4 linked regions of the Homo sapiens genome follow. The protein of the gene in region 2 interacts with the protein of the main gene of each other region in a biochemical or structural test. Each region holds a gene or a part of one and is shown on either strand. Other genes may lie near its edges. The genes, in order: MAP3K7, PINK1, PGAM5 and FBXO7.

Evidence for each region.
Region 1: of the proteins of PINK1 (region 2) and MAP3K7, one has a biochemical effect on the other in vitro, tested with the Homo sapiens proteins (one study listed by BioGRID).
Region 3: of the proteins of PINK1 (region 2) and PGAM5, one has a biochemical effect on the other in vitro, tested with the Homo sapiens proteins (one study listed by BioGRID).
Region 4: the proteins of PINK1 (region 2) and FBXO7 form a complex in vitro, tested with the Homo sapiens proteins (2 studies listed by BioGRID, with this or other methods).

Annotation. Positions count from the first base shown.
Region 1 is NC_000006.12:90,549,064-90,556,097, forward strand, and holds part of MAP3K7 (mitogen-activated protein kinase kinase kinase 7), read right to left. Parts: intron 4,524-7,034; coding exon 4,395-4,523; intron 3,117-4,394; coding exon 2,986-3,116; intron 1,487-2,985; coding exon 1,405-1,486; intron 1-1,404. UniProt on the Homo sapiens protein: Serine/threonine kinase which acts as an essential component of the MAP kinase signal transduction pathway. Plays an important role in the cascades of cellular responses evoked by changes in the environment.
Region 2 is NC_000001.11:20,629,236-20,636,457, reverse strand, and holds the start of PINK1 (serine/threonine-protein kinase PINK1, mitochondrial precursor), read right to left. Parts: upstream 3,001-7,222; 5' UTR 2,910-3,000; coding exon 2,523-2,909; intron 1-2,522. UniProt on the Homo sapiens protein: Serine/threonine-protein kinase which acts as a sensor of mitochondrial damage and protects against mitochondrial dysfunction during cellular stress.
Region 3 is NC_000012.12:132,706,680-132,713,862, forward strand, and holds the start of PGAM5 (serine/threonine-protein phosphatase PGAM5, mitochondrial), read left to right. Parts: upstream 1-4,162; 5' UTR 4,163-4,197; coding exon 4,198-4,388; intron 4,389-7,183. UniProt on the Homo sapiens protein: Mitochondrial serine/threonine phosphatase that dephosphorylates various substrates and thus plays a role in different biological processes including cellular senescence or mitophagy. Modulates cellular senescence by regulating mitochondrial dynamics.
Region 4 is NC_000022.11:32,484,811-32,491,844, reverse strand, and holds part of FBXO7 (F-box only protein 7), read right to left. Parts: intron 6,778-7,034; coding exon 6,636-6,777; intron 4,101-6,635; coding exon 4,017-4,100; intron 760-4,016; coding exon 664-759; intron 1-663. UniProt on the Homo sapiens protein: Substrate recognition component of a SCF (SKP1-CUL1-F-box protein) E3 ubiquitin-protein ligase complex which mediates the ubiquitination and subsequent proteasomal degradation of target proteins and plays a role in several biological processes such as cell cycle, cell proliferation, or maintenance of chromosome stability.

The sequences.
Region 1 (7,034 bases), on a different chromosome or scaffold from region 2:
GCTAAAACTGATGATGCAAGAGACAGGGGAGAATTGCTCAGAGGAGCAGATGGGATATAATGCACAGGCAGAAAGGTACACCTTTGGCCAGAAGTATGGATAGTTTAGCCAGAGTAACAGAAGAAAGCAGAGTAGATGGGCACAGATGTTGTGGAAGCTGTCTTCCGATTACTCCAATTTTCTCAGAGAAAGAGCAAACAAGATCAGCTGAGAGTGAGGAGTGGCGAGGAGGTGTTTGAAGTCTGAGGAGAGGCTACAGTATAAAATTAAGACATATAGGAGGAAAGAGATGAACTACAATACAGTACAACTGTCCAATAGCACTAAACATGCACGTGAGGATAGTAAACCTGTGCTATCTCCAGCCACACTCAGCTGCATTGGTACAGGCAAGGAGTAAGCCGAGTGTCAGCTTTCATTAGGCTTGTGGTTTAGCCAAGCAAGCTTGAGAGAGAGGCTAGAAAGATGAAAATTATTCCCAAAAGAATTATAATAGTTGATTGGAATTAAGTGGAGGGAGAAAGAAAAAAGGACCTAAGAGGACTGAGGACCAGTGAAAAGGTGGGAGGCTCAAAAAATTCAAGGTCACAGTAAGGAAATGAAGAGAGAGTTTAGAGGACGTGGGAGACACAAATGATAGAATTTTAGAGAAGTACATTTTAGAATTCAGAGCAACTCAAAATATTTTCAGTAAAACTGGAATTTGAGAATAACTAGCCAAGCAGTAACCATCTTAAAATAAATAAAACTATTCTTGAGGTGGGAGAAATAGATCAGTAAAAGTATTTTTCAATAAATGCAGGGTAAATACATGTGCATATAGACACACACATATCTTTAAGTTTCAATTAATAATGAAATGCTTATAATGCCACTATATTTTGAGAAGTACAATATTTCTAAGTTACAGTATTATTTCTACTATCTTTTTGATGACCACAAATTACATGTCCCACTACTACTTCACATTTCGGAAAACTAAGGAACTTTTAACATAGCTTCTTAAATCAGAGCCTCTGTAGAAGAGAACAAAAACTAGGGTGTTCGTGATGAAGAAATGTTTAAATACATTTACAATAATTTCTAATACTACTTGATCTAGTAGTATGCATGTAAAAGTGATTTTTCAAGTTAAGAATGACATTCACTGTAATACAATATGCCATCTTTTTATTCATAATTATGTAGGAATTCTAAGACTTGGAAGCAGGTCTTCAATAACTCTTTAATCAGGGTACCTACATGAAGAATGACGCACCTGTAAACTCAAATTGCAGTCAATCATATGAAATGAAGGAATTAAAATGCAAATGGGGACATTATTCATTACTTCTTGATTATAATTTCATGGGAATAGAGATGAAAGAAAAATCAAGTCAATACTCTTCCAATCTATCCATTTACCTGTACTGGTGGCAGAGTTGCTCTGTCCTTCATCTGAATACTGACAAGGATACTGTAATGGCTCATCTGCTCCTGGAAAGTACTATATATAAAAAAGTAAACCACAGCTTAAAATTTCCTTAATACAAATTAAATCCTGATTAATGTTTTATTTTCCCTAAGTTATATACTAAATTTGTAGGTGCCTAAGTTTTTTATTTTACAAAGATTACAATAATGTACTCTTGGATTTCAACTTTGATCAATGCCATGCACCTACCTAAGAATCTAGCTTACATTGGAGTCTAGATAGTCTTGAAGAAAACAGCAAATATTTCTCTAGAGAAACATATGAAATAAAATAGTATCATTTCTCATAATTATGTAAAACATACTCATGTTCTTACAGTAGTGATGTAAACTTCCAGTGACTGTTAGTCTGAAGACTGAGACTAGTATACCATAGAATAATTGTTAGAACATTTTAAATATTAAGAGGATAGATTATGAATGTCTTTCTACAAACTGGAGGCATAATACTCAAAGTATCTGCTGGACAAAAATGTTAGAATTTAGAGAAAAAAAGGAAACGTATTCTCCTCAAATTAGACAAGGAACAGAGAAGCAAAATTACAACTGCAATAACTTATATATCCTAAAGTTTTAAGTAATCTGACTACAGAGACTAAGTTGTTTTCTTATGCACACACCTTTAAGGCCTAGGCTTCTATATATGACTGGTATCCAAATACGATGGTAAACTTTTAGTAGATTAGTTCAAGCTGCTTTGCGTAAGAAATTTTCAATAGATTGAATAAACAACGTTTTACCATTTAGGAAATTACTTAGTCTATATTTAAGGAGATTGTAAGATTCTTCTACTGAACAAACTGTTTCAAAATTCAGGCACTTTCATAGATATTTGAACTTTTTAAAGCCAAGATACCACTTCACAGTTTTTGTTAATGTACCAAAAACCAGAGGCGTAAAATATTCCAAATAATTCTAAAGGCGCTTGATTCACAGACTAGGAAAATTTGATAATCATTTAAAAGGGTTCTTCTAAATAGAAGAAAGTTTAACTTTTTACTGGGATATAAAAACCTGAAAATAGGCCAAATAGTAAAAGTCACTCAAATAAATGTGTCTGAGAATGCAACCTATTGCCTTGCATAAATGACTAAATGCTTGATGAAAATTGGTATCAGAAAAATGTAAAATTTAGTTTATCATGTATTGAAGTCATAATATTAATATATCCAAGTCCTGTGATGGCTTTAGAGACTATCTATTTCAGTTTCTCCCACATTACAAATGAGGCAACAGGCCCAGAGACAAACATACTTGTCCACTAATGTAAGCAAAAAGAAAAAAGCAAGTCTAGAAACCTAGTCTAGCCATCTTTCCAGTGATAAAGAACTAGATTTTCCCTCTCGAAATGTTTCCTCTTCTGACTATGAGTAATAAATGCCCATTCTCACTTAGAAAACATAGCAATATATAAAGCAGAATATAGTAATAACATCCCTTTTAAAATTCCATTAAAACTCAGCACATATTAAATTCCCCTAAATCCAAAGCCCCTCAAAAGAAGGATTATACCCGCATCAAGTGAGTCATTATTTTCACAATTTCCTCCATTGAAGGGCGCTGGGAAGGATCTTTAGACCAACAACGAGTCATCAGGCTCTCAATGGGCTTAGGTAAATTTTTTATCAGTGGTGGTCGAGTACCTACAATTGAAAATGAGAGGAAGGGGGGAAGAATGTATTTACCCAAAGAATGATGCAAACTCTTTGTACGTATTTCCAAAGTGGTATTTATTTTATAGATCTTGTAGTTTAAGATCTGTAATTTGGAGTAATAAAAGTGCTTTGTAATTTTATCAATTAACAAGTTAGTTCTTTTACTCTTTACTTCACGGACGTTCAATTATTTACTGACAACTGATAGAAAGCAAGCAAGCAAGCTGTCCTGGTCAATGCTGAACAGTCTCCACAATGATACTAATGGTAGTAATATTAAAGGCAGTATAGGAAACTGGTAAAAACAGCTAAGATTACTCAGATGATGGTACTGTTTGATAAATCTATGAATGACCTAAATAATTAGGCAGACATTTGTTTTTAGACTTGTGGAATAATGTAAAAAATGGCCATTAGTCACATGATTATAAACAAGGCATAGAAATGAAATAACTAAGAGTGGCGCTAAAATTAAGAAGGTAAGTAATTTTCCTTCATGAAAAGCTATTTTCCCAAGCAAATGTAAAGTAACTTTACTAATGAAGAGGATGCATTCTAACATCATATGTGGTTAAAAACAACATTACCAGAACTATAAAAGAAACAGGACAGATGCAAGGACATTGAGTCCATAAGTCAATATGACTTAAGATATGAGCATTCAAGTCAGAAGCATCTGGATTTGAATCCCAGCTCTACCACTTACTAATCTTGTGACCTTAAGCAAGTTATTTAACCTCTCTAGGCCTCAGTTTCCTAATCTGTAAAATGAGGCAACAGTACTCACCTTCTAAGGGTGGGTGAGAATATAAACAGGAAAAATATGTGAAGCATTATTATTCTTTGCTTCTTCTCCTTGATGAGGCCCTTGCTTCTTCAGGAGAAAAGGGCTATAACTCTCCAGTTATATTAACCATGTCAGAGATTTTATGTATGTATTTTTTTATTTTTTCCATGATCCAGCCTGATGCTTCTCCCTAAGAGAGAGCCAACTGTCTAGGTTGCGTACTGATGGCCTTTCCCTAATCAGCGGAGCCAGTGAACATCCTCAGCCGCATGTGTAGACCAGGACTACTCTCAATCCTGCTCTGCTGGACTCTGGGGCAGGGACAGGGCAGAGTCTGATAATAGCAAAGCAGTCTCTTAACAAAGAATTGTACATTTTAATGTTAGAGATAAATGATATTCTTTAGGGAAGGGGACAGGAGTAGTCTTCCAAGTAGAAAACACAAAAAGTACTTTTAAGAAAAATTTCTTTTTACGAACCATTATGAACAGCCCACATGATTCGGAAAGCTGGGCCACCAATCTCATCAAAGGGTTTCCGACGCGTTATCACTTCCCAAAGAATAATACCCCAGCTGAAGACGTCACATTTTTCACTGTAATTACTACCTAGAAAAAAAAAAGGTAGTATATAACCTAAAGACTATTTTTCCACATGACTTACAGAAACAATGGCTTAAATTTTGAGAATGGGTATCAGGGATAAAAATGAGGCTGTCACATGTAGAACTAAGAAACTACTCTTTCTGAAGTACTTTGTCTTTTCAACAAGTACATTTTTAAATGAATTAAGTATCAACAATACACTAAAAAACTACTTCAGAAACTCAGTTATTTTCTATCTTTTTTCATCAAGAGGCAGTTTTTTCATCAAGAGGCACAGGACTTGACTTTTATGTATTTAGACTGATACTTTCTCTGGGGCAGAGTATGAAACATCTGTACATTCCTTTATGTTGTTTATTATTATTTTATTCTGAGACAGGATCTCACACTCTCATCCAGGCTGGAGCTCAGTGTAGCCTCAAACTCTTGGGCTCAAGTGATCCTCCTGAGTAGCTGGGGCTACAGGCATGCGCTGGCACAACTGGTTAATTTTTTAAATTTTTTGTAGAGATGGGGTCTTGCCATGTTGCCCAGGCTGGTCTCAAACTCCTGGGCTCAACTGATCCTCCTGCTCTGGCCTCCCGAGGCGCTGGGATCACAGGCATGAGCCATTGTGCCTGGCCTCCTTTCTGTTACATTTTAATCTTAAATTTTCTTCCCACTCTGACAGACAGCACTACTCTGCTATCAAAGCAGAAGAACTTTCTAATTTAGTGTTACAGTTTTTTCCTCAATATATGGTGAAGGGAAATTCTTAATTTATAAACTTAAACATTACGTTGTAAGTAACGAAAATTATGGATAACCTGAGTTACACAGCAAAATTTACAAACTAAGTAGGTGGTTGAATCAGCCAGCACAATAAGCACCCGTCATAATCTCCCAAAAACAAACAAACACTCAACTCACTGTAAGAATGAACAATTATTATAGCTATAGCTTTACATGCTAAGCAGTACACTGTAATATAGCACTACAACCATGCTACAGTCTAATTTGGGCTACAGGTTGACTGACATCTTTCAGAAATGAAGAAACTTACACAGCCTAACAGTCTGCATTTTGTTGCTCTAGACAATTAAGGGTTGTCTAGAGCAATAAAATTAATCTTTTGTATAAACAAATCTTTTTGCTCTCCACATACAGTAACATTGGGTCATTTTAACTCACATAAAGGTATATTAAATAAGTAAATAATTTTAAAACAATGTCAAATGTATACATTCTGTATATGAAACAGGAGGCATTATTTAATCTTGTGTAATATAACACCTGATTATTCATTTATTACTAAATTGAATTTTAGGGCAAAAGAGCTCCACTCAGGTGACTAGTTGCATTGCAATTTCTCTTCCTCTGGGGTGGCTAAAAACAAACAGAAAACCCTTTAAAGTCATCAAAACTGAAAGAAATAAGCTATAACCAGAGTCTGATTAACTGAATGTATCTGAATTTTATGGGCATTTACACTTCCTAACATACAAATCACATACCTTCAGTTCAACTTCTTTCATTTAAAAGATAATTTGATGTTTTTATACAGAAACCTAGCATATAATTTACAGACAACTCTTTTAAAACTTCAGTGACATATGGAGGTATAAAAGAAGGTAAACATATAAGCTTGACATTTATTTGTAATTCTTAGTATCTTATTTCTGTCCAATTACTTGCATTCTTTTTTTTTTTTGAGATGGAGTCTTGCTCTGTCACCCAGGCTGGAGTGCAGTGGCACGATCTCGGCTCACTGCATGCTCCGCCTCCCGGGTTCACACCATTCTCCTGCCTCAGCCTCCCGAGTAGCTGGGACTACGGGCGCCCGCCACCACGCCCGGCGAATTTTTTGTAGTTTTAGTAGAGATGGGGTTTCACCGTGTTATACAGGATGGTCTCGATCTCCTGACCTCATGATCCGCCCACCTCAGCCTCCCAAAGTGCTGAGATTACAGGCCTGAGCCACCGCGCCCAGCTATTTGCATTCTTTTTAAGGCATCCTCATTTAAACTTTAGGGCTCTCAATTTTTAATTGCTAGGAAACCAATACAAAAGCACAGTTAATTCTCATTATTCCTGGTATTTATGTTCTATAAAGTTTCTGAGAACACTGAATTAGTGAACACTGAATCACTGCTCCTAAGGAAAATACAGGGGTAGGTTCCTGTGTGCCTCTGGTCACCATGTTTTTGTCAACTGATCAATATATAGCCTTGTTTCATGCGTATTTCTGCTTAAAGACACCTTATTCATATATACTGTTGATTTATTACCATTGAACTCATAGTCAACATTTCTGTAACTCATGCCTGAATGAAGATAATTTAACATATGTATATTGTCTGTTAAGATACATCATAGCCTTCTTGTACTTAGGCAGTACTATGCTTGAGGGCCATTTTAAGTAGCAAAATTACCAACAAAAATCACAAAAATGAAAAAGGGCTCTGAACAGCACAAAAAAGGACACCTGCTTACAGCATGAGAGCTGAAACAAGACGGAAAAACGTTGTCTTGTTC
Region 2 (7,222 bases):
AGGCAGAAGAATTGCGTGAATCTGGGAGGTGGAGGTTGCAGTGAGCTGAGATCGTGCCATTGCACAGCCTGGGCGACGGTGTGAGACTCCGTATCAAAAAAAAAAAAGGAAAATCCAACTTCCCTTATAAACTTCATGGAGCAGAAGCAACGTGTGTGTGTATATATATAAAATATACTATATACTATTATATGGAACATACATATTATAGTATACACAACATATATACACATATACATATATATACACATTATATATATATTTTTATAATATAAATTTTTAGAGCTTGCTACTAGCACACTCCTGCTAGTTGCCCAGGATGGGGTGCAGTGTTGCAACTACAGCTCACTGCAGCCTCAAACTCCTGGGCTCAAGCAATCCACCCACCTCAGCCTCCTAAGTAGCTGGGACTATCGGCATGTGCCACCATGCCTAGCTAACTTTTTAATATTTTGTGGGAACAAGGTCTCACTATGTTGTCCCAGCTGGTCTTCAACTCCTGGGCTCAAGAGATTCTCTCACCTTGGCCTCCCAAAGCACCAGGATTATAGGCATGAGTCACCATGCCTGGCTTCAGAATTTTTTATTTTTTTATTTTTTATTTTTTTTGAGACGGAGTCTCACTCTGTCCTCTAGGCTGGAGTGCAGTGGCGCGATCTTGGCTCACTGCAAGCCCTGCCTCCCGGGTTCACGCCATTCTCCTGCCTCAGCCTCCCGAGTAGCTGGGACTACAGGCGCCTGCCACCATGCCTGGCTAATTTTTTTGTATTTTTAGTAGAGGCGGGGTTTCACCATGTTAGCCAGGATGGTCTCGATCTCCTGACCTCATGATCCGCCCGCCTTGGCCTCCCAAAGTGCTGAGATTACAGGCATGAGCCACCCCGCCCGGCCCAGAATTTTTTAAATGTGAAATTAATTCCAGCAAAAGTAGCCAGTGAAAACAACTTTTTCTCCCCCCAGTCAGAGTCTTGCTCTGTCACCCAGGCTGGAGTGCAGTGGCGTGATCTCAGCTCACTGCAACCTCCGCCTCCCGGGTTCAAGGAATTCTCCTGCCTCAGTCTCCCAAGTAGCTGGGATTACAGGCGCCCACCACTGCGCCCGGGTAATTTTTGTATTTTTAGTAGAGACAGGGTTCCACCATGTTGGCCAGGCTGGTCTCAAACTCCTGACCTCGTGATCCGCCCGCCTCAGCCTCCCAAAGTGCTGGGATTACAGGCATGAGCCACAGTGCCTGACCAAAAAAAATTTTTTTAATGTGAAATTAATTGATAACTAATAACATTTTCAGGCATAGGAGGGTGAAGTGTGCGAAGAAGGTGTGTGTGAATGGTAAGTTTAGGAGGATCAATCTCCTCAGTTAAAAAAGCCTCTTTAGTTTTAAGCAGGATTAGTCAAATTTCCCATCCTTAGCTTCTGCCAGTTAAGCTGTGGCAAAAGACAAGGTCAGGGGCTGGGGACTAGGCCAGATGTCACCTGTCACCCCAAACTGGCCAGAGCTCAAACATGAGACAGTGGTGATGAGCAATAAGAACTGGGATGGAAACCAGGAAACCCAGGAGCCACTGCTTGGCCCTAACAGCTGTGTCCTTGGGCAAGTCACTCCCTCTTCCACCACCTCAGCCCTAACCTGTAAAATGCAGGGGCTATGCTAATTTAGTGAGTGGTTCTACACCCCCAGGAAGAAGAGTGACCTCCCTGGAAGAAGATGGAATTCTGCCAGCGGCCAGGCTTCAAACCTGAACTGCACCGCTGGCTCCTCCCTGGCTCTCCAGCCTGCCCGCCTACTCTGCGGCTTTTAAGACTTTGCCAATCCCCATAGGGAGCCAGGTCCTCAAAATAAACCTGCCTCTATATAGACACATCCTATTGATTCCATTTGGAGAACCCTAATACAGACTTTGGTTGGGCAAAAAGAGAAGTCTTGTGCTATTTTAAGCATTAAAAAACCCTAAGAACCCTTGTGTATCCAGTCAGCAGGGATAACTCTACACAGGTAACTAAAATGTTAGGACTGTTTTTCTCGCCGTTCATAGTTTTTACTGCGGTTTCAGCTCTGTCACTACTAATCCTTTGGTTAAACGGCGGAGGCAGCCTGGCTCAGTGGTTAAGGGCACTGCATTTTATTAGCTGTGTGACTTCGAGCAAGTCCCTTCACCTGAGGACTTTCCTTCTCCATAAATTAGGGACGGCAACTACCTCAAAGGGATAGGAATGTTATGATTTAGTTGTCCGTACATTTTAGAAAATTTACACAAAGCCTTTTGCTGTGCTGCGACAGGAGCTGTAATCGGCAACATGTCTTCATTTGAGGAAGGGAAACATTAAAACAAATGGGAGGTGCTGGCTTTATTTATAGCAGCCGATCAGTAATGGTGAAATAGATGAGCTTTAAGGACCCTCGCCTCGGCCCTCGATCTGCTCAGAGCCCCGCCTCCACACCTAGCCCCGCCCCCACCCAGCTGAGGACCCGCCCCCGCGCTTAGCTCCGTCCTCCGCTCGGCTTAGGACCCGGCCCCGCTCACCTGGATCTCCTGACAGGCCGAGACCGCCCGCCGGCTCTCCGCCTGTTTTTCCTCGATGAGGCCCAGCCCTAGCCCGAAGGCCAGAAAGACTGCCCGGCCGCAAGGGCCCGCGCAGCCCCAGGCCCGCACCACGAACTGCCGCTGCAACCGCGCCGCCAGCCCGGCCACCGACTGGCGGAAGAAGCGGAGACGGTTAGGGAGCCCGAGCCCGACCCTGCGAGGCTCCGCGCCCGGTCCTGCGGCCCAGCCTGGACGCTCCCCGCGGACACAGCCCGCCGCCGGGCCCGGCCGCCCCAAGCCGTAGGCCCGGCCGGGCTTGCCCGTGAAGCGCAGCAGCAGCGCTCGACCCAGCTGCAGGCCGCGGCCCAGCGCCTGTCGCACCGCCATGGTGGCGCCGCGGCCCGGTGCCCCCGCAGCCGCCGCTGCCGCCACCACCGGCGTCCCCCGCCGGTCACAACAAACTTGGGGCGGTGCCTCTGCGCAGGCGCAGGCGCTGGTGGGCGGGGCCGGCCCCCGCGGCAGTTCCCCGACTCGGCGCGTGGGGGCGCTATGCTGGTACTGGCGCCTCTAGCAGTGACTTTCCCTTTGCACTTTGGACCCACGTGGAGGGCTTGCCGGTTCAGGCAGGTCCTGAATGTGAACATCACTGGTCCTGGGCAAAATCGAGAAGTCGAGAAGGGAAACTGATATTTTTTGCCAACCATGGTGCCAGACCCTTTACGTCTTTTAATTTATTTAACAGCTCCACCAACAAGATAAAAATGCCGTTTTTATAGATAAGAAAACCGAGGCATAGTAAGGGGCAGCATTCGAGGTCTTGTGAAGGTACCTAGCAGAGCTGAGCTACAGTTCACATTGTCCTAACTGTTGAATGCTTGCCCTCCTCAATGCCGTTAGGCTGCTGTATGTGTCCACAGTCTCAGGGGTTTTGAAGACCCCAAGACAAATCTCACCCAAAAGACACAATTTATGAATGAGTGTGCTGAGGTCCCAAGATAGCAGCTTGCCCAAAGCCACACCGTTTGTTTAATGGCATAGGCCTGCTCACCACAGAACACACACACGCACGACACGCACATTACTGAAACAGTTTGCTGTCTCCTGGCCAGGGGTCCACCCCATAGCCAAGTAAGCCCAGGGGACAGAACTCTTCAGACAAAAAATCCCTTCTTCAGCAGCAGCTCCTATCTACATGACCTTTGACTTCATATTTAAGGAGAAAGGGATTTATGAACAGAAGCCATAGTCTCTGGCTTCAGCGGCAGGGAGACAAGATGGTGGATCCCCATGCCATTACCCCCAAGACCCAGGGCCTATATGCTATAGGAAAGGAATGTGACGGACATTTGAAGTCAGTCCCCCAGGGAAAGGCAAGAATGCTGTGTGAATCTGCCTAAGGGCAGGATTTATGGTAAGTACATACTTTTACACAAGGAACAATAGATAAACTGGAAATCTTAGAGGCCTTCCCTAAAAGCTGGTTAATCAGAAGTCAACTTGGTTGGCCGGGTGTGGTAGCTCACAGCCTGTAATCCCAGCATTTTGGGAGACTGAGGCAGGTGGATCACTTGAGTCCGGAAGTTCATGACCAGCCTGGCCAACAAAACACCATCTCTACTAAAAATACAAAAACTAGCTGGGCGTGGTGGCACACGCCTGTAATCCCAGCTACTCAGGTGGCTAAGGCAGGAGAATCGCTTGAACCCAGGAGGTGGAAGTTGTAGTGAGCAAAGATCACACCACTGCACTCTATCCTGGGCGACAGAGTGAGACTCTGTCTCAAAACAAAACCAAAAAACCAACAAAACACATCAACTTGGTGGATTAGCATCCAAGACGGGGTTGCTTTAGCTTGCACTGTGTGTGTGTGTGCTGGTCTCTCTCATAATCTTCCTTAAGGGAGGAATTTTATGGTTCTTGTGATATCCAATCATATTTATTTGGGAGAGGCATAGATGAATTTCCCATTTGTATAGAGGCACATGAATATCAGATATTTAATTTTTTGGATCAACCTCAGGGAATTTTTAATTATAATTTTAAATGCTCCACTGAAGTTGTAATTTGAAGAATGATAAGGGAAAGAAAGTTGGAGAAATCTCACATTCCAGTAACCACAGGCTCACTCATGGAAACTTAGTTGGGGCACAGATGAGTGGATTTAAAGTTTAAATCCACTCGTCTGAAGCCAGGTTTGCAGTGGTTCACTCCAGCACGTGGGGAGGCTGAGGTGGGAGGATCGCTTGAGGCCAGGAGTTCAAGACCAGCCTGGGCAACATAGGGAGACCCTGTCACTACAGATAATAATAATTTAAAAGACCCCAGCGAGGCATGGTGGCAAGTGCCTGAGGTCCCAGCTACTTGGGAGTCTGAGGCAGGAGGATTGCTTGAGTCCAGGGGGTTGGGGCTGCAGTGGGCTGTGATTGTGCCACTCCACTCTCCACTCCAGCCTGGGTGACAGAGTGAGACTCTGTCTTAAAATAAAATCAATCTACTCATCTGCTGTGTCTCATTACTGTAAACTAAAAATGAGGTTCTAAGCTCCCCAACTGACTAAATGGACCCCCTCTGGGCCAAAGAAAACCTAAAAAACTAAATTTCAGGCCATGAAAGGAAGGGAGGTTGGACACGCCTCCTTATACCCCCTCCCTTTTGGAGTTTAGCCACGACTGACCAGCATTAATATTCAATAGTGCACATAAGACTGACAATAAGATACCAAATTCCAGCCTGACGCTGGTATCATAGCTGTCCATTGGGTTCCCCTTGTTCATTGCCTAGACAGAGCTGATTTATCAAGACAGGGGAATTGCAATAGAGAATGGGTTTAATTCATACAGAGCCACCTGTATGGGAAACCAGAGTTTTATTATTACTCAAATCAATCTCCCTGAAAACTCAAGGATGGTGGTTTTTATGGATAATTTGGTGAGTAGGGGGTCAGAAAGTGGGGAGTGCTGATTGGTTGGGTCAGAGATGAAGTCATAGGGAGTTGACACCGTCCTCGTGTGCTGAGTCAGCACAAAACCTTGGCTTCTGCAACCCCCCTTATCTTAACTCAAGCGTTTCTTTCTACTGAGTTCAATTCTTCAGACAAAGCTTAACTCTTTCAACCAATTGCCAGTCAGAAAATCTTTGACTCCACGTAGAACCTATGAGCATCCACTGCTTCAAGATGTTCCACCTTTCCAGGCTGAACCAATGTATATGCCTTCCATGTATTGATTTATATTTTTGCCTGTCACTTCTGTCTCCCTAAAATGTATAAAACCAAGCTGTAACCCAGCCACCTTGGGCATCCTTTCTCAGGACCTCCTGAGACTGTACTCTGAGCCATGATCACTCATACTGGCTCAGAATAAACCTCTTTAAATAATTTACAGAATTTGGCTTTTTTTTTTTTTGGTCAACATTACCATTATAGCTCCTCTCTTTAATGTTTATAGAGAAGGAAAAAGAGGTTCTCTGAGATATTTAATGTTTCAACTACAAAGATTTTCTTTAATCTCCCAGGAACATAACCTTTTAGTATGAGGCTTATGATGACCACACAGCTTATAAGACATTGTATTGGTTGTCTTGAGTTAAAGAGTACGTTTGTCTTAAGCCTTTGCATTTGTTCCCCTGAGCTGCAAATGAACTCACTGGACCTGCGATACGTAATCCATCAGCTGGAAATGAAATCTCCAGACTGATGTTAATTAACCTTCCATTGTAGGCTGGACTTACTCACTTCTCCATCTGTAGAAAAATCTGAAGTCTGACAGGTCTGAATCAAGCACAGCATGAAGCTTGATTCTTTGGCAGACATCTGTATGGAATGGACAAGTAAGTGGATTTTGGAAGAGAGAGGTTTCCAGCAAGGATTTCAGGGGTTCTGCATTCTCACCTCTCAGGTCAGAGATACAGCCTTACTGTGCCAGGGGCACAGGCATGCATTTCCCAGGGACAATGGTCCTGACTCCATTCATCCCTGTCTATCCTCCTGAGAAGGAAAAATTCTTTTTATGGTGGTGCCATGGGTCTCAGGTCTCAAGGAATCATCTTGAGATTCTCCCATAACATCTCCCATCTTTTTATTTATTTATTTATTTATTTATTTATGAGACAGGGTCTTGTTCTGTCACCCAGGCTAGAGTGCAGTGGTATGATCATGGGTCATTGCAGTCTTGAATTCCTGGGCTCAAGCAACCTTCCTCCCTCAGCTTCCCAAATAGTTGGGACTACAGCTCACACCACTATGTCCAGCTAATTTAAAAAATATTTTGTAGAGATGGGGTCTTGCTATTTGCCCAGGCTGGTCTCGAACTCCTGGCATTAAGTGATACTCCCACCACATCTCTGGGGTTACAGGAATGAGCCACTGCCCCTGGCCTCTCATCTCTTTAATGGTATCCCAAAAAGGTGAAATTGGATATATGATTGATATGTTTTGGCTCTGTGTCCCCACCCAAATCTCATCTTGAATTGTACTCCCATAATTCCCACATGTTGTGGGAGGGACCCAGTGGGAGATAATTTTAATCATGGGGGTGGTTTCCCCCATAATATTCTTGTGGTAGTGAATAAGTCTTATGAGATCTGATAGTTTTATCAGGGGTTTCCACTTTTGTATCTTCCTCATTTTCTCTTGCCGCCACCATGTAAGAAGTGCCTTTTGCCTCCCGCCATGATTCTGAGGCCTCCCCAGCCATGTGGAA
Region 3 (7,183 bases), on a different chromosome or scaffold from region 2:
GGCTGAGGCAGGAAAATCACTTGAACTGGGAAGGCAGAGGTTGCAGTGAGCCAAGATCGTGCCACTGCACCCCAGCCTGGGCAACAGAGTGAGACTCTGTCTCAAAAAAATAAATAAATAAAATAAAAAATAAAAATAGGGCTGGGTGCAGCGGCTCACGCCTGTAATCCTAGCACTTTTTGAGGCCGAGGCAGGCGGATTACTTGAGGTCAGGAGTTTGAAACCAGCCTGGCCAACATGATGAAACCCCCTCTCTACTAAGAAATAATAAAATAAAAATTAAAAACTTAAAAGGCTGAACATTGCCGTGTGCGTGGACTGCATTTTGCCTGTCCGTCTGTCCGTCAGTGGCTAGACTGTTTCCAGCTCCTGGATGCCGTGAAGGATGTGGCGGTGAAGACAGCGGCACTAATGCCTGCTCAAGTCCTGCTTGCCTTGGGTTTTCAAAGAACTGCTCTTTCAGTTCAGAATATTTAAGGTGGGGTCGTTCCCAAAGGAAGTTTAGGGCATTTGCAAAAGTAACAGATGCTCCTGCAATTGATGCAGAAGGTGACAATTCTGACTATCCCTCTAACTTGCCACTTCCCAGTGAGTCCCACCCCCTGCCATGATGGAGGATTAAGAACCTGGATCTCAGAACAGATTCTAGATTAGAATCCAGAGATGACAGTACTGACACCGCTTAGGGCTGCTTTGTGCCGGAACTCTTCTGAGAGCTGCAGCAGCCCTGAGGGAGGTGCCATTGTTTTCTCTACTCCACATGTGGGGGATGCAAGATGCCTCAGCTAGCAAGAGACAGTCCTGATTCAGAGGCAGTCAGCCAGGTCTTGAGCCACCATCTTCACCACCTCATCATAGGGCATCAGAGTGTCACGGCAAGGTCAAGAGAATTTGCTGGAGAAGATTTCACATCATGTATATGGCTTACCACAGCCCGCATCCGGTCAGTTCGCTGAACACACCTTTACGGAGTGCTGTCAGGCACACAGGGGAGAGCAGAGACCAGGAGTTTTTAGTTTCACACACTTAACAGTCATCAGAAAACAGGCTTTTTTTTTTTTTTTTTTTTTGAGACAGAGTCTCACTCTGTTGCCCAGGCTGGAGTGCGGTGGCATGATCTCAGCTCACTGCAGCCTCCCGTTTCCAAGTGATTCTCCTGGCTCAGCCTCCTGAGTAGCTGGGATTACCAGCGCGTGCCACTATGCCCTGCTAATTTTTTGTATTTTTAGTAGAGATGGGGTTTCACCATGTTGGCCAGGCTGGTCTCGAACTCCTGACCTCAAGTGATCCATCCGCCTGTCTCGGCCTCTCAAAGTGCTGGGATTATCGAGCATGAGCCACTGCGCCCGGCGTAAAAAATACATTAAAAAAAAATATTTTCTCCTGGGCTGGTCAGTTTCCACACAGAGGAATCCTTTAGTTCTTGTCAGGGCATTGGGGGAAGGATGGTGGTGGTAGCTGAGCAGGGAATGAGCCTAGTGGCCAACATTCTTGTGGCTATCTGGAGGAAAGGGGTTAGAGGTCCTACTCTTCCTTATGTGAACTCTGTATAATCCCATCTTTATTACTGCATCCCCAATCTGAGCTATGCTTGGTGTCCTGAAATCCAGAACCCTCCTGTTCAAGTCCCCTGGAATGGCCTTTCTCTAGTGCTCCACGGTGATGAAAGTGAGCTATTCCCCTGAACATGTGGGGGAGAAACGAAATGTGGAAGGCAACCTTTTCCTCTAAATGCTCCTGCTTTCAGCCCCACAGCTCTCAGACAGGAGGCTAATGCTGCCAACTCCCAGACTCTTCCAGACTCACTGGATTAAATGAACTTGCTTCCTGGTTTCCTTCCACATAGGCACTGGTGTTCCATATTCTCAGGTCGATAAAGATCTGATCTCCAGCTCTTGAACTTTTGTTAACTGATTTATCTGCTGTCATTTCTTCTTATGGATTCAACTATGTCCTTGTGGATTTTCCCTTGTTTTTTATTTTATTTTTTGAGATGGAGTCTTGCTCTGTCACCCAGGCTGGAGTGCAGTAGTGTGATCTCAGCTCACTGCAGCTTCTGCCTCCTGGATTCCAGCGATTCTCCTGCCTCAGCCTCCTGGGTAGCTGGGATTACAGGTATGTACCAGCTAATTTTTGTATTTTTAGTAGAGATGGGGTTTCACCATGTTGGCCAGGCTGGTCTCAAACTCCTGATCTCAGGTGATCTGCCCGCCTCGGCCTCCCAAAGTGCTGGGATTACAGGCATGAGCCACTGAGCCTGGCTGATTTTCTTTTTTTTGAGACAGAGTCTCTGTCACCCAGGCTGGAGTGCAGTGGCACCATCCTGGCTCACTGCAACCTCTGCCTCCCAGGTTCAAGCGATTATCCGGCCTTAGGCTCTCGAGTAGCAGGGACTACAGGCGCGCACCACCACGCCAGGCTTTTTTGTATTTCAGTAAAGACGGGGTTTCACCATGTTGGTCAGGCTGGTCTTGATCTCCTAACCTCGTGATCCGCCCACCTCAGCCTCCCAAAGTGCTGGGATTACAGGCGTGAGGCACTGCGCCCGGCCCAATTTTCCTTTATTTTTTTGAGACAGAGTCTCGCTCTGTCGCCCAGTCTGGAGTGCAGTGGCGCGATCTCGGCTCACTGCAAGCTCCGCCTCCCGGGTTCACGGCATTCTCCTGCCTCAGCCTCCCTAGTAGCTGGGACTACAAGCACCCGCCACCATGCCCTATTTTTTTTTTTTTTTTTTGTATTATTAGTAGAGACGGGTTTTCACCGTGTTAGCCAGGATGGTCTCGAGCTCCTGACCTCGTGATCCGCTCACCTAGGCCTCCCAAAGTGCTGGGATTACAGGCGTGAGCCACCACGCCCGGCCTTCCTTTTATTTTTATTTTTTAAATCTTCCTATCATTTTTAGTAAATGACCTGGAAGCAGCAGACCCAACTGGAAGCGTACAGGTTCAAGAAAGCCTGTTTAAGCAGAAGTCTCAGTATTTCTGTGGAACCATTCAGTTTTTTTATTTTTATTTTTTTGAGACATTGTTTCACTCTGTTGCCCAGGCTGGAGTGCAGTGAGGCAATCTCAGCTCACTGCAACCTCCGCTTCCTGGGTTCAAGCAACTCTCCTGCCTCAGCCTCCTGAGTAGCTGGTATTACAGGCTGGAGCCACCGTGCCCGGCTAATTTTTGTATTTTTAGTAGAGACCGGGTTTCACCATGTTGGCCAGGCTGGTCTCAAACTTCTGACCTCAGGTGATCCGCCTGTCTCGGCTTCCCAAAGTGTTGTGATTACACGCGTGAGCCACCGAGCCCAGGCCCAAGTGATTTTTAAATAGCTTAAATCAGATCATGTCATTTCCCAATTTTAAAATGGGCAGAGATGGTCCAGCAATCCCACTTCTGGGTACAGACGCAAAACAATCAATGAAAGAGAGATCTGCACGCAGCACTGTTCACGCTAGCGAGGAGATGGCAACAGGGCAAGCGTCCAGCAATGGGTAAGCGGTGGGGTCGGTGCACGCAGGCGTCCAGCAATGGGTAAGCGGTGGGGTCGGTCCACCCAGGGAGCGCTGGTCCCCCTGGAAGGAAACCCAGGCTCTAACGCGGTCCCTCTGAGGACCCTGCTAGGCGAAACGCGCCGGCCATAGAAAGACTGTCCCGCAGGAGAGGGCGGTGTTCGGCCCGGGGTTTGAGGGGTCGGGACCAGGAGGAGGGACAGCCCGGCCGAACCTGAACGCACTTCAGGCCGCTTGAACAGCACACGCAGGAACTGCGCCGACGGAAAACTTTACTTCGTGTTCCGCCACCAAAAAAATATCGTTTAAACAAACCTGCGGCAGCTTCCCAGCTCCCTTAAACCAGGATCCCAAGTTCTCCGCGTCTCCGCCCCTGCACCCAGCCTCCGGCCTCGGCAGGCGCTTCCGGTGCGGAACCTTCTGGAAAGTACCGCGCCGCCCTCCCGGCGTCCCCACAACCCCGCCCGCACCTGCGCGCACCGGCGCTCGCGAGCACAAGTGACGGGACTGGAGCGTGGCGCGGCAGGTGGCTCCACGAAAACGCCCCTTCGCGCAAGGCTGCCCCGCGTCCTGCCGCGCCCCAGGAGGCGGGACTTCCGCCCCCGCCGCCCGGAAGCGGCAGCCGGGGGAAGCGTGTTCCTCGCGGAGCGCCGTCGGGGCCGTGGGCGCCTGCGCGGGCCGGCGCGGGAGCAAGCGGCATGGCGTTCCGGCAGGCGCTGCAGCTGGCGGCCTGCGGGCTGGCCGGGGGCTCGGCCGCCGTGCTCTTCTCGGCCGTGGCGGTAGGGAAGCCGCGCGCAGGCGGGGACGCGGAGCCACGCCCGGCTGAGCCGCCGGCCTGGGCGGGGGGCGCGCGGCCGGGCCCCGGTGTCTGGGACCCCAACTGGGACAGGTGCGCGCGGGGCTGTTTGGGGCCGGGGTCGGGATGGGGGTCAGGGCAGGTGTTACCGTTGGGATCGAGATCGGGACCAGGTTTAAGGTTGCGATCGGGTCGGGATCTGGGGTCGCCGTCTGCTTTCCCCAGCGGAGGAGCCGCTTTCCGGGGCCGCTCTGCGCGGAGGGTTCCGGGGGCGGCTGACCCTTCCCGCCGGCTTCTGTGGCCGAGCTCCGTCGCGTCCTCGCCCTTCTCCCCGCCCCTGCGAGTCCGCCCTGGGTGCCATCGCCGGAGCGCGGGCCGGGGCGAGGCTGAGGTGGAAGCCGGGCCTCCTTCAGGGGCGTTTGCAGGAGCGCGCCCGCGAGCTGCGTGCGGTTATTGAGCGTTTGAAATATGGCTCGTGTGATTCCTGAAGGGAATGCTTAGTTTACGTCAATTTAAACTTAACGCAAGCAGGGCCGGGTGCGGTAGCTCAGGCCTGTAATCCCAGCGTTTGGGAGGCTGAGGCCGGAGGATCGCTTGAGAAATTTGAAACCAGCCTGGGCAACATAGTGAGACCCCCATCTCTACAAAAAATACAAAAAAAATTGGCCGAGCGAGGTGGCGCGCGCCTGTGGTCCCAGCTACTCGGGAGGCTGAGGTAGGAGGATCCCTTGAGTCCAGGGGTCCCAGGCTGCACAGTGTGAGCCGAGATCCCGCCACTTCACTCCAGCCTGAGCAACAGAGCCTGTCTCAAAGGAAAAAAAAAAAAAGTAGTGCAGGTTTTTAACATTAGTTATGTGTTGAAATAGTATTTTTAGCATATTGAATTAAAAGTATGATCGAAATTCACCTGTTTCTTTTTAATGTTGCTATTAGAAAATGTATAATTTCACATGTTGCTGGCATTCTGTTTCTGTCGGCCAGGACTGCTCTAGCGGCAAGGATGGTTTTCCCAGTCCTAACTCCTCATTATACTCAGTACTTTGAGAAAGGGGGCACAGAATTATACTACTGTGGTTGCGTTAGGTACTTTATATTAGATTTTTATCTTTTGTTAACCTTATTTCCTCTATTATTAGCATCATACACTAAGCATGGTGTATATATCAAAATTAATGAGCCAAAATAATATAGATTAATTATAGTTATTATATTAGTTTATAATACATTACTGTTAACTAAGGTTCATGTTTCATTGAGATTTCCTCAGCTTTTACCTGCTGTTCTGTTCTAGGGTCCCACATGACAAGTAGTCTTCATGCCTCCGTAGGCATGTTTTGGCTGTGACAATTTCTCAGACTTGTTTTGATGATCATGAGTGTTTGAGGCGTCCTGGTCAGGGGTTTGGTAGAAGGTCCCTCAATTGAGACTTCTCTGAAGGTTTTCTCATGATTAGACTGGAGTTACATTCTTTTTCCTTCTTTTCTTTTTTCTTTTTCCTTGAGACGGAGTTTCGCTCTTGTTGCCCAGGCTGGAGTGCAATGGTGCAATCTCGGCTCACTGCAACCTCCGCCTCCCGGGTTCAAGCAATTCTCCTGCCTCAGCCTCCCGAGTAGCTGGGATTACAGGCACGCGCCATTATGCCCAGCTAATTTTGTATTTTTAGTAGAGACGGGGTTTCTCCATGTCGGTCAGGCTGGTCTTGAACTCCCAACCTTAGGTGATCCTCCCACCTCGGCCTCCCAAAGTGCTGGGATTACAGGCATGAGCCACCATGCCCAGCCTGTTATATTCTTTTTTAAAAATCAGAATTCTGAAAAATCAGAAATTCTGAATCAATATTCTGAATTTCTTAGGTCTTTTTAAGGAAACAGATTTACTCTGCCGTTAAAGAACTTGAAGTAGGCTGGGTGCGGTGGCTCACACCTGTAATCCCAGCATTTTGAGAGGCTGAGGTGGGCGGATCACTTGAGGTCAGGAGTTCGAGACCAGCCTGACCAACACGGTGACACTCTGTATTTACTAAAAATACAAAAAAATTAGCCAGGCATGGTGGCATGCACCTGTAGTCCTAGCTACTTGGGAGGCTGAGGCAGGACAATCACTTGAGCCCAGGAGGTGGAGGCTGCAGTGAGCCCAGATCGTGCCACTGCACTCCAGCCTGGGTGATAGAGTGAAACTCTGTCTCAAAAAAGAAAAAAAAGAACTTGAAGTAGAACCGGGAGCTGAGCCCAGCCTTTCTCTTTTAAGCAGGTGTTCTGTATTTGCTTGTCATGTCTGGGGAGAAGTGAATTGGGCCTTGTGGGTTGGGAAAGACTTATACAGACAGAAGGCATGAGCAACTACAGGAAGGTGCTAGAAGACAGCATGTTTCTTCTTGAGTCTCACCTGTCCACACTTGAAAGTTCCAGAGCCTCATCTGGTGAAATCTCCAGCTTCTTCCTGGAGGTCTCATGCAGTTTACGGCTTCCTGTCTCTGTGCCTATAGCTCCCAAATATTTTCTCTGGCTCAGCCTGACTCCCCCATACCTGCCAATTTGAGTCTTGGCCTGGTTTATGACAGGCCCCCAGGTCGGCGTGGCCCAAACGGAGCCCTTGAGTCACCACCGTGCCCTTCCACAGCTTCCTTTTCCGCCACTGTCTCAGCGAGTAAATACCAGCAGGTTCGACTTTTGCTATTCCCAGCTCTGCCGCGTTGAACTTTTTTTGTTGCTGTTGAGACAGGGTCTCGCTCTGTTGCCCAGGCTGGAGTGCAGTGCAGTGCAGTGGCAAGATCATGGCTCCCTCCTAGGCTCAAGCAATTCTCCCACCTCAGCCTCCTGAGTAGCCGGGACTACAGCTGTGGACCACCTTGCCCGGCTAATTTTTTAATGTTTTTGTAGAGACGGGGT
Region 4 (7,034 bases), on a different chromosome or scaffold from region 2:
AAAAAAATGAGAAGCTAATATAAGGATCTCGAGTGAATTATAAACCTTATTGAATTATGATTTCATCATCTATAAAATAAGTACCACATAATTTACTTCGAAGTCATTAGCAGTAAATAAGAATGCATGTGAAATATCCAACTAAGTGCCTGCAAAGAGCCTCCAATAAATGGTTTAAAAAAAAAAACTTAGATCCAATTACAGACCATGTATTATTTATATATGTCTATATAGACATATATATCTAAATATATGTCTATATAGACATATATATCTAAATATATGTCTATATAGACATATATATATGTATCTACACAGAGAGAAAGAGCATCTATTATGTACCTGACCTCATGCTAGACCACAAGAATACAAAAGTAAGATATATTCCCTACCTTCAAGGTATTCCCAACCTTAGGTGGAAAGAAATCATATCAACAATTATAGTCCATGGAAAAGAGACTACAATAAAAATATGTACAAAATGGCATGGAGATACAAAGATAAAGTAAATAGCACTTAAGGAATATTAAGCTTAGTCTTAGAAGAGGAACATTTCGCCAGGAGCAGAAAAGAGGGCAGTCAGATGTCATACTCACCAAGAATATTAAGTATACTTACTATTCTTTACAGTCATTTAAATTGTGACAGTATTTCATCTCTTACCTTGTCGGGTAAAAGCCAGAAGAGGATACACCAGCTGGTCTTTAAAGAGGCGAGAGAGTTTCTGAAGATCTTTGTATATGTTGGCTACATTTTCCCCTAGAATATTTTTTAAAGTAAAATCAAAACCCAAAATCAAGTGAAAAAACTGTCCTCTATTTCTGCCAAACCCAATCAACATGGTGAATAAATATTCACAAATAATTCACAAAGATAAGCATGAACCAAATTCCCTCATGGAAGAAGTACAGTGCAAGACTTGATGAAACTGAATCTTAGATATAAAAGCTAAAAATTCCATGATATCAAATTAGTAGAGCTGTGCCCAACCTCTCTAGCTCATAGGCTGCAGTTGTAGAAAAGACTTGTGAGAGATTCATACATACGAAGATTTCCTGATAGCTATCAATCTGTTCTGGGCACTAAGGATACAGTGGAGAACTGCTCCTGTTAACGCTTAGAACCTGGTAAATTAATAGCATTTATCGCATGATGACTATGTATCAGCACCTGTGTCAAGCGTTTTTCAAGCTTTCACATCAGAAGTTCTTTCCTAATTACTATCTCCATTTTAAAAACAGGTCAAGGTACAGAAAGCCTGTCCAAGGCCCCATGGTTAGTGGCAGAACAGTGCACAAACCCAAGTCCGTGTGGCTCAAAAGCACTCATTTTTAGTCACCACACTGCTACTCAACATGTGGGCGACAGATCACCAGAACTGACAATACCTGGAACTGTTTAGAACTACTGAATCTCAGGCCCCCACAGACCTACCAAATCAGAACCTATATTTTAATAAGATCCCCAGGTGACTCATAGTAAAGTACGGACGCACTAGCAAACTGCAGCCGAGGTTCCCACTTGTTTTGCTATTTACCAAGTGTATAGCCTTGGACAAATAACCTGCCCCTCTGATCCTCACCTTTTTGCTCAACTGTTTAAAGGAGACACCACCACTACACCAGATAAGCGTTGTTATAATTGAAAGCTCCACGAGCAGTGCCTAGGGTATCAGTAGGCAATTTATGCTTGCTCCTTCCCCATTTCATATTTATGTATTTCACTATCTATAACAAATAAAACACTCAGTATAACAGGATCGATAAGAAGAAGGAAAGAGATATGCAGCTAATGTCTAAATCTTTGTTGTGTGACTTGCAATCTTGAGTTGAAATTTGCTGTCAAGATATCATTCTTTAAAATCAATTTGGCTCAAGGGCTTTTTTCAAATGTGAAAATTGATTTTCTTTAAATGAATGTTTTCCTTCAGCAACCTGGTATGTAACTATTTAATTAGGAACTTATAAATAAAAGGATAAATAACAGTGCCTAGTTATAGTTACTAGGTGCTATGAACCACAGTAAAAATTCATTAAAATGACTTGCCAAATGAGCAGCATATTCCTACTCAACATAAGACTTTATTAAAAATACTTCATTATAACAGTCCATAAACTTGTAATTTAACAGTATTTAATGTTCCTCCTCCCTTCCATTTCATTTTTCTTTATTTAAGAGAAACCAGATAAAGAATAACAATCTGAGCTACATTCCTGTAAAAGTTGTTTTAAAAGGCTGGGAGTCAGCCAAATCTATTCCTATCCTGTATTTCACCATTTATTGGCTCTGTGACCCTTAAGTAAGTGAGCCTCCTCTAGATCTGTTTCCTGATCTATAAAATGGGCATAAAACCTCTACTGCTGTAAAGTGTAGAGTGTTTCTACTCCCCATAACAAGGTCCTCCCTATACGGTGATAAATATGGAGTGTCGTAGCCAAGGAATTTCAAGTTTTTCTGATCCTCATGATAAAAGCCATCTATACCAATTCATCAGTCCAGTTTATGCATTTCCAACAGGGGCAAAAACTGGTCCTTGACGGGTTAAAAAGAAAAACTATTATATTGGTTTGTGATCCTTCAAAGGGTCACAGTACATAAATAAAACATACTATATTTGTGGTATGAAATTTCATGAAGGAGAGAGATTGAGGGGAAAATCTCCAACGGCTCCTTTGGGAAGTGAGAATAAAAAGATTGAGAAACTCTGGCCTAGTCTGACATTAAATGTTCAACTCGGTCGGGCGCAGTGGCTCATGCCTGTAATCCCAGCACTTTGGGAGGCCGAGGCGGGCAGATCACAAGGTCAGGAGTTCGAGACCAGCCTGGCCAATATGGTGATACCCTGTCTCTACTAAAAATAAAAAAAAATTGGCTGGGCGTGGTGGTGTGCGCCTGTAGTCCATCTACTCAGGAGGCTGAGGCAGAAGAATTGCTTGAACCCAGGAGGTGGAAGTTGAAGTGAGCCGAGATAGCGCCACGGCACTCCAGCCTGGCGAAAGAGCAAGACTCCGTCTCAAAAAAAAAATTCAATTCAGCTAATTCCCAATTTCTGACTCTACATCCAATCAGAGACCGTTATAAATATGTATTCTGCTATCTCCTTTTCCTGTCAGTTTTAGTTAGTATAAGTCAATCTCTCAGGGCTGATCTCCCCTAGGAATGAACAAGAATAAGCCTTTAGGCCTTCAAAGCAACAATGTCAATCTAGCCAGCCTTTCCTAAAGGACTGCTATAAATGCCATCTTCCCATTGTACCACAACATTCCCACTAGGCTCTTAAAACCCTCCTAAGTTTACTAAGAAGATTAAATGGAATAACATATGTACAGGCACAAGTACAGAATGAAACAGGCACTTAAAAAATGTCAGTTCCCCTCTCCACCTTATCTCTTCTGCTCCAACCACCTATAACTGCCTCTCACAGTTTGGTTTAACTGAAAAATGATAAAAGGGAAAACCTGTCTTCTTTGTATCTATTAATAATTTTATAGAGTTTAAGCAAAACCTTACCTAGAATGCAAACCTTTGGTAAAGTATCAATCTGTATAAAATAGCCATCAAATTTATATAGGTTTAAACAAACATTTTGATTGTAGTTTTTCCTCCAATAATCTTCAATAATGAACTTGACATTGAATTACTTTCATGAAACACAGATCCCCTCCATATTGGTTAAATACCAATATGGAGATCTCAATAGGGAGATCTCCAAAGATTAGTACAGAAACTATGAACTATCATCAGAGTGTAATAAATTACATACTAGTGTTATCTCATAACAATATAATTCAGCACACTATGACCCTAAGAAAAACAGGAAAGAAACAAACTCCTCAAATTATAAGCAAAACTTTCACATTTTTTAAACCTTTGCATTCTTAAACAAACCACATTGTCTTCAATATGCTTTAATCTCATATAGAAATTTTCAGTCTTTTGAACATTATCTTTCAGATTTTTTTCTTATATGAATTTCACAGAGTTTCACCCCAAAAGTTAAATAATGTTTGTATTACCTAGTTTCTCTTTGCAAATAAAAGATTCTGGTAGCAGCTGCAATCTTTTCACACTTCTAATCTCATTGTTGATTTTTAGTGTAGCTGTAAATAAACAAAAGAAAGATGATAAAGAATTCTGTCACTTCATCAACTGCCTTTCTTTTTTAGTATGGGCTTGCATTTCCTAGCTCCTAATATACTAAGGACACATTATACAAAACAAACTGTTCTTCGCCTATTTCTTTCTCTGATAGCAAGTTCAAAAGTGTAAACCTGGCATCACATGAAGTAAAATCACTCTACAACACCACCTTTAAAAACTACAGTAAGCATCTTTATATAAAATCCACTAGGCAGCAGCTTATTAGTAACTTAAAGATATGCAACAAGGTTAATCAGAGGCAACTAAACACAATAAAATCATTATTTCTAATGAAGTCACTAAAAACTCCATTTATTTTTTATTTAACCCTTGGCAATGAGTCTTCCTTTGTTCATTAAAATAATCTTGCTAGTTTTCACAGCATCATCTCTCTTCCAGACCCAAAGGATAAATATACTTGACATCACCAGAGGGTTCAATTTTAATCATGTATACAAAGGCGCACTTCATCTCATTCCATGAAAGAGCCCAGTGATGTGCTTATGCACATGTGCACCAAGCAGGATGCCTTGGGTGAAGGAAAGATTTAAAGACACACTGCTCCTTTTCAAAGAATCAATCCTGGAACGGCTGGCTGCCATGCAAGTCTGCCAAGAGCTGATTTGCCAAGAACAGTAAAGAAACAAAACATCAGAAATTAGGAAATCATCAAGACATTCAGCAGTTATTCTTTTTATATTAAGTATCCTGAATCTAGTGAATAGAGGTTATTATACACGTCATTAAGTGCTTTTATAAAAAATCAAGGCAAAATTTGCAACTACACATTTACTATTTGGTAACTCCAACCTTGCAAGTTATGATGTGATGTAGCAGAATGATTAGATGAAGGCAGAAACTGTTGACACTCTGTGTACAAGAATGCCAAAGTAAAAGCTACATTTGCTAATTATGATGAACTGCTGAATAGACATTGCTAGGTCCTAGTGTCATCAGACAGTCATGTCCTGACAAATGTGAAGTACCACCAAAGCTATTAAACCTAGTTTTGAGACTTTTAAATAACATTTCAAAGAATCTTATGACTAAAGAAATAGAAATTTCGTAAGAGGCCAGGCATGGTTCACACCTGTAATCCCAGCACTTTGGGAAGTCAAGGCAGGAATATTGCTTCAAACCCAGGAGTTTGAGACCAGCCTGGGCAACACAGTGACACTTCATCTCTACAAAAAATAAAATAAAAAATAGCCAGGTGTGGTGGTACACGCCTGTGGTCCTAGCTACTCAGGAGGCCAAGGAGGAAGACTGCTTGAGCCTAGGAGGTCAAGGATGCAATGATCCATGCTCTGCCTACTGCACTCCAGCCTGGGCGACAGAGCAAGACCCTGTCTCAAAAAAAAGAAAAAAGAAACTTTGTAAGAGGGGAATGAGAACTATCCAACATGTCAAAGATCAAGATGGCATGAGTCAGTAGCTTTCAAAATAGATTTTAGCAGGAAAAAAAAAAACCAACATTTTTTCAAACAGAATCTTACACAGAACTTCAATAAATGAAACAGATAAACATTTTGCTGCTCAAGGTTTAAGTGGTGATAGGGCTTCTACCTAACTTTCATCTCAGCAGAAAGGAGTAGCTACAGAACATACTGAAAACCTCTGACCTAAACCTTTGACCTAAGGCTTACCAAAGCAACTGCCTTTGCTAAACGAAAAAGATGAGCTATACTGAATAAAAAAACAACAAACGCAGCCCTCCCAATCTTACCACGCTATCTTTCTAACTAAAAGGATAAATCTCAAAAAACAAAACAGAACAAAAATGAAAGCTCCTAGTCATTCAAATGGATCTCCAGTATGTGTGATTATGACAGAACACTAGGAGTTGATATGAAACAAAGTGGTACCTGAACTAAAACACAGAGATGGAATGCATTGCTATTCCAGTGAAATTTCTTAATATGAAAAATAAACAGGAAAAGTTATTCATACAGAGTGACATTTGTTGGGGGAGGCCCAGCAAATAAAACACATACTTACTAAGGCCCCAGTAAACTTAGCATTGTTGTTGTGCATTGCTGGTCACAGGGATGCCAACTTGGATAAATGGTGACCCCAGGTCTAGCTCCCCATGTCTCAGTTCAAGACCTTCGTTAAAAAAATAAAGCCATCCACAGGCATAAAGAAAAAGTATTCTCCAAGGAGTTCATGTGTAATAGGCTCATTTCACTCCTATTATCAAATACTGATAATATTGGATAATATTAAATATTATCCCCCAGAGCAAAATATTACAAAGATTAAGACATCAAAAAAATGGATGCCCTAAGAATGAAGGGTGCTGGCCTAAACAACTCAACAACCTCATATTCCATGATCTTCCAGACACATGTTATCAGTGGCCTAGGAATTAAATACAGTTGAGAAGGACTCACAACTGTATCATGATAGCCAATCACTGAAGTGGCTATAAAACATTTGGAAAGAAACGTCTAAGAATCCATAAACCAGCAACCATGACTATGCTATCCAATTACCATTTACAACAATCAGGTTTCCCAAAGGCACACAGGTGAGAGTAGCGGAGCTGCCCTCGCAGAGAGGATGCATGTACTGCAGCTTATACACCCCGCTCAACTTCCACTTCTCCGGCATGGACAGTGCTTTGGCTTCGGTGCCCTGGGGAACGAAATGAAAGGGAAACAAATAATGAAGAAAGGTGTTACTCTCAAAAAGATTAAAAATCCAAAAGACTCCTAACTTGTTTGAAATAATCACTCCACACAGTCCTCTTAATAAAATGCATCAAATCATTAACATTGCCAATATATTTTATATTGTAGGATAACCATATTGTATAAGATAATATATTAGAACACTTTTAATCAAAATTTTTGTTCAAATAGGTAAAACTGCATCATGGAAACAGGGATTGA